Regions from separate parts of the Homo sapiens genome. Here region 1 is linked to region 2. The links come from fine-mapping of genetic effects on gene expression. A gene starts in region 2. The other region holds a variant in brackets. All regions are shown on one strand. Distances are between the middles of the regions.

The links. PIP is the estimated chance that this variant, and not a neighbour inherited with it, causes the effect.
Region 1: its variant is fine-mapped to the expression of MROH2B in atrial appendage (GTEx, PIP above 0.99).

The regions. Positions count from the first base shown.
Region 1 is chr5:40,981,586-40,984,493 of GRCh38, reverse strand. It overlaps C7 (complement C7), which reads right to left. Exons shown (of 18, transcript NM_000587.4): 18 at 1-2,908. Among named protein-coding and RNA genes, the nearest start is that of C7, 74 kb to the right of the region's middle. The variant A/C (reference allele first, on the strand shown) is at 1,564.
Region 2 is chr5:41,070,064-41,072,985 of GRCh38, reverse strand. It overlaps MROH2B (maestro heat like repeat family member 2B), which reads left to right and starts at 1,644. Exons shown (of 42, transcript NM_173489.5): 1 at 1,644-2,161. The coding sequence starts at 2,134. It overlaps LOC105374739 (a long non-coding RNA gene), which reads right to left and starts at 1,629. Exons shown (of 6, transcript XR_001742650.2): 1 at 1,058-1,629.

The sequences.
Region 1 (2,908 bases), 88 kb after region 2:
CAGCACTTGCAGCTCTTAGCAGTTACAAAACAACTAGATGGTTCACAAGACTCATGTGAAGCTGAGATTAGCCATGATCTGCCCAGCAAAGAGGGCAACCCTCAATCAGATTAGCCAGTTACCTGGCTAGTTGCTAGGTAATCCAAAGTTCCGGGGGTCACTTGTCAGATTTCCTGCTTGGCACTCCACATCCCTACCATACCCTACCTGAATACGAAGAACCCTCCTTCTCTTTCAAGGTGATTACAAGTCATCCTGCACTGGGAAAGAAGGTTACATTAATAACAGTTTGAATGGGGCTCATTAAATCTCAGGGCTTAGAGAAGCAGCACTACTTTTGATCAATTAGGAAATACATAAGATGTCACAGGAAGGCACTTCTCAAAACGATTAGGAAATATTCTCAGGCACCTTCTCTGCCCAGGTAACTTGTAGCGTCCTCATGAGTGGTAAGCGATGATCTGTAGGATGTGCCTTGGCCTCCACATAGCTCCCTGAAGCTAGTGATGATTAATGCACCAGCCAATTTCCTTCTCTTTGTCTGTTCCTTCTGAGGGCCAAATGACTCTAATCTCAGCAATGCTTTCTGCCCTCTGCCTCCTCCAAGGCTCTATCCCCTTCTAACCCAGATGACCCTCACCTGATCTGAGGCACAGGAAAGGGCAGGAAGATGGAATTCTCACAGTCTTTATTCTTTTTCCATTTATTTTTGTGGTATAAAATCATTCCCTTAACTTTCCTCAAAGCCTCTCCATAGGTGTTCAAGAACTTATTTTGGAAGTTTCAAAACATTTTTAAAAATTTAATCTTAAAAATGACTTTCTCCTTGCTGACCTGCTGCGACAATCCTAATTCTCCACAGGCAATTGTGAATGCCTCTGTTGGACTAGAGGAAAGGTCAGCACAAGAATGTTCAGAAAAGAAAAGGAGGAAAAAAATACAGTATTTCAAGACAACACCTCTTCACGACAACATTCACTGCTCCTCTCCTTCTCCTCTCCTTGACTTCTCCTTCAATAACTCTGCTGAAATTCCTTTCTCAAACCTCTTAGTTACATCTACTCATTTCCTTTCTTTCAAACCTCAATCTCTGATGATATGTGATAATGCTGACCATATCCTCTGTATTATTTAGGAAGGGGGCATGGTGATACATAAGCGGTAGGAATCTAACTCCATACTAGCTTAAGCTAAGAGGAGAAATTATTGGAAGGATACTGAGGTATTTCCTTCCAAATGAATTACTTGTTCAACCTTTTGTCTCAGGGTCTGCATCCAGGCCTAGCATGTTCAAATGTGTCCTCCCATCCAGGGTAGAAATTAACTCTGTAATAACCGCTAACAAATGCAGTTGCAATGTCTGAATGTCATTGTTTTTAACCAATTGAAACCTGCCTCCTTGTAACTTCAACATATTATATCTGCATCTTCCCTTAGGGCACACTTTGATACAAAAAGCTAGATCTGGATCAGACATAAAACTTCAGGCAAGAACACATTAACCATTCATCATGAAAATCTTCTCTAAAATGAAACATCATACAAATGAAACAATTCTGAAGA[A/C]TAGCATCTTTAATGAGTGTTCTAATCCTTGTCATCTGAAGTTTTGAAATATATTTACCAGGGTCAGAACAATACAGAGATAGTATTTGTATAATATAGCTTATTTTAAATTTCATTTAAGCCCTCTCATTTCTCCTCCCACAGCTGCTGTTTTGTTTTGATGAAAGAGAAATAAGGAATAAATAAAAGGTCAATGCTTCAAACTAATCTACCTGTGTACTCCCTGAAAACTCTGGGACTGTATCCACAGAATAGGGAAAACTATTCTCAAATGCACAGTCACTCATGCCTCAGGCATGAACTGATGTTCTTTCAAAAGAAAAAAGAACAGGGGCAAACTTCCAGTCCTATGTTTGACACATACTAAAACCCCAAAGAGAAGACTGAATTGTATTTGTTCTCAGACAAGACACCCCTGTGACCACAGCATAATGAATTCTGCTCTAACATTTTAGTGGTTCAATCTCCCGACAAGAGTAAGTATTCCAGCCAGGCGTGGTGGTTCATGTCTGTAATCCCAGCACTTTGGGAGGCCAAGGCAGGCGGATTACCTGAGGTCAGGAGTTGGAGACGAGCGTGGCCAACATGGTGAAACCCCATCTCTACTAAAAATGCAAAAATTAGCTGGGCGTGGTGGCGGGCACCTGTAATCCCAGCTGCTTGGGAAGCTGAGGCACAAGAATCGCTTGAACCCAGGAGGCGGAGGTTGCAGGGAGATGAGATCACCCCACTGCGCTCCAGCCTGGGCAACAAAGTGAGACTCTGTCTTAAAAAAATTAAAAAAAGAATAAGGAATTCCTATCTGTGGTGGTTGACTCTATAGGATGAAGTGTGAGATTACTACTCAGGATAGAAATAGTTTGTATCTGTCATTTTTGTTCAAGTCCTCTTTATATTTGGTTCCATTGAGGAAAACCACCCTCTCTAATCAGGAGATCACGTTCTTTCTGTTATCCTAGTCATTTTGTAGAGTGTGTTCTGGCCCATGGGCTGTGTCAATCATACTTAATAAAATGATAGGCCTGAATGGAGCATTCAAGTTTCTCTAGTGCAATCCTCTAATTTTACAGATTTTAAAAAACCAAGGCCCAGAGAAGGTAACACCTATTTCAAGAACACGCAGCCAGCCTGTGCAAAGGCTCATATCCTTACTGACATTAAAAAGGAGGCAAAAGAGTAATTCGATTCAGATTTGGGAGAACAAAGGATTGTGTTTATACAGATGGCTGGGAGTTGAGGAGGAAGGTAGACACTGGAGAAGAAGGAAAAGCTGTCCAGTGCCCAGTTGTGCAGATGTTTTCACTCAGCCCCAGCTGCCTGCTGGATTCCAAGCAAGCTGACCAGG
Region 2 (2,922 bases):
CATGTGGGAACATAGTAGGCCTGGGATTGGGTAGCTTCATTTGACAAGTTACATTGAAAGGGGATGGCTACCACATATCCAGTGAGACACTCTAATTCCTTAGCAGGCTAGATTTAGGCTCCCTCACAAATATCTAGAAACAGTACTTAATTAGTTAGCACATGCCATCCTATTCACTTTGAGAATTCGTGTTTAGGATCCTCTTAGAGTCTTAGAGAAATCAAATCCATATTGTGTTAGCCTCATGCAATGAGAAGAGGAAGAAATAATGGGAAGATGTAACAAGCAGGCGACTGAAAAATGAAATAAAATGACAGCAAATCAGCTATTTTGAGGATTTGGGGATTTTAAAACTATCTGCAGTATTGGTTTCAATGAGTGAATTTACTTTGTCTGAAAGGATTTTAGCAAAAAGTTGTGTTTTGATTGCAGCGATGAATAAATTAAAAGTCAAAATAAATCAATTATCTCCTAACTTCTCTAATCTCTATGAAATCAAGGAAGTCTTTATATACAGACATACAGAAAAATCATTTGTCACCATTCACAAAAATATTAAGAAAATGGTTGTAACAATTACCTAAATGGCTAGCTTTCTTATTATTGATTCTGCTGTACATTGTTTTTTAAGACTCTAAGAGCACATAATTTCTAACATCATTTTTTCCCTTATAGGGAATCTGTTGTTTTATTTACTACAAGTAGACTTAACATCTTATAGATGTTAAGAGTTTCGGGATGCCTCTAATCACCCCAGTACCTCCCTGACTAACCAAACTTGGCCTATTCTTCAGTGAGTCATGATGCTGGGGAAGAGCTCCTTGCCCAACCACAACAAACATTCTTCAGTTAACTGCTATTTACTGATCCACTAATGAATGTTTGGGCAAGGACCTTGGTCAGTGCTTTTCAAAGTTCAGTGAACCTAAGAATCACCAGGGGCGCACATTAAATATATAGATTGCTGCCCCCTCATTCTAATTTACTGGGTCTGAAGTGGGGCCTGGGAATTCACATTTTAAATAAGGATACCAAGTAAATCCCATGATAAAGTCACCTGGAGACAAAACTCTGAAAGTGATGCTGACTTGGGAAGCGGAAAATGTTGAGGATCTCTTTAATACAGTGCAAAATGTCTATGAGAAGAATGATGAATTCAAAGGTTTAGTTGGAAGCAGTTGACCTTTGAATCTGGAATAAGCTTCACCGATGAAGTTAAGATGGCCAAAAAAGCAGCAGCAGATGAAAATTGTCATGAGCTCCCCTCCTCAGCCCATTCTACATTTAGCCCTATAGACTAGCAGTACTGCCTTCCCTTTCTCTATCATCCTCCATATTCACATAGAGTCTGGACATATATTGAAGATTGTCATCACATAGATTTATAGTTGGGGACCAGATTTCAATTCATGCTAGATAAGTTGAAAACATTATGGAAAATTGATCTAGATAAAAAATAATTTGAAAACAAAAAGAAAGCTGAAGACAGAGAAAAAGCCTGAGCCTGGAGTGAGGCCAAGATCCTGAACATGCCAGGGAGGAATTAATGGAGAGGGAGGTAGAGAGGTCTTCACTTTGCTGCTGTCAGTTGGACATTCCATCCAACTGCCCCTGAAGTGCATTCCAGTCCACTGAGCATGCTCAGTTCATATGACTGATTTTCACTAAGTGTAACAATCAACGAGTTCACCATAAAGCCTTTCCCAACATCAGGACAGTAAAGCAACTACTGAAAACCATTCCTGAATTTGTGATCAATGGACTCAAGTTTAGGGAGAGGAGCACCTTTGGTCTGCAACAATGGTTTGAATCCCAGTCTCTAATTACTTCTTTCCCAAATACTCTGGTCACCAAAGGGACAATATTTGGTGAGATGCAGCCATTTTGTTGGTTAGCAGGAGTTCAGACGCAAGACAATGTCATAGTGGTAGAATACAGTATCAACTTCAACAGCAAGCCCATCTCTGGAAGCTCCCAGACCATTGTGCCAATCAAGTGGAGGAGGCACTTTCATTTAGAGAGGCTTATGTGAACCTTATATGAGAAACTTGCCAACCTGCCTCTTTGATTTTTTAGCCTTACTATTTCTAATACTTAGGTGCTATCTTTTAGAGACCCTGAAACAGCCAAGACATGACACTTAGTACAGAGGAATCCATAGGTAAGCATCATCAGATCCTGAGAAGCCAAGGCTCTTCCCTGTGTTTTGTTTCTGTGGAATTATAAGTATATATGAGGGCTGGGAGTGGCGCGTCATTGTGGGAGGACTGTACACCTCAAAGGATTTATGAAATGGTATGCTAAATACATAATAAAATCATGCTGATTGTGAAGGACCAATAATAGACTGGAAGCCTAAGAGATGGTTGTGCTTTAAAATTTAGAGTCTACCTGAGGAGAAAGTGGCTACATATCAAAGAAAGGCAGTTTGTTATTTAATTTTAAATACTAGAAGAGTCCTTTGGAAGTATTTCTCCCAATTTCCAGGTATGGCTGCCTTTCTACTTTGCCAAAAAGATTGCCCTAAATGAGTATGTTGTTTGGTGTGGAGGTTAATAAGAAATCTTCATCTCCAAAAGTATTTCTCCTACCAACTTGCCATGTAGCTTGAAATTGCTCAATTCCTTTGACTCAATTTTTTTTCCAGTTTTCTAGAGTGCTTTATTCAAAAACATATATTCCTAGAAAATGCAAGTCAAACACATTTAGGTCATTGTCAGAAAACAGGAAGCCTTCATTAGCATGTGACCAAAAGAGGGAGTTGGCAGGCACAGGAGAATAGGTGGAGTTGAAAAGGGTATGGAAAAAGAAGATGGGAGAGGTATTGAGGGGAGGACCAGTGAAAAATAAACAGCTATGTTGCACCCCTGCCTTCTAATGCTTAAGTCAGGAGTGAGAAATTCACCTCATTGACTCTGAGAG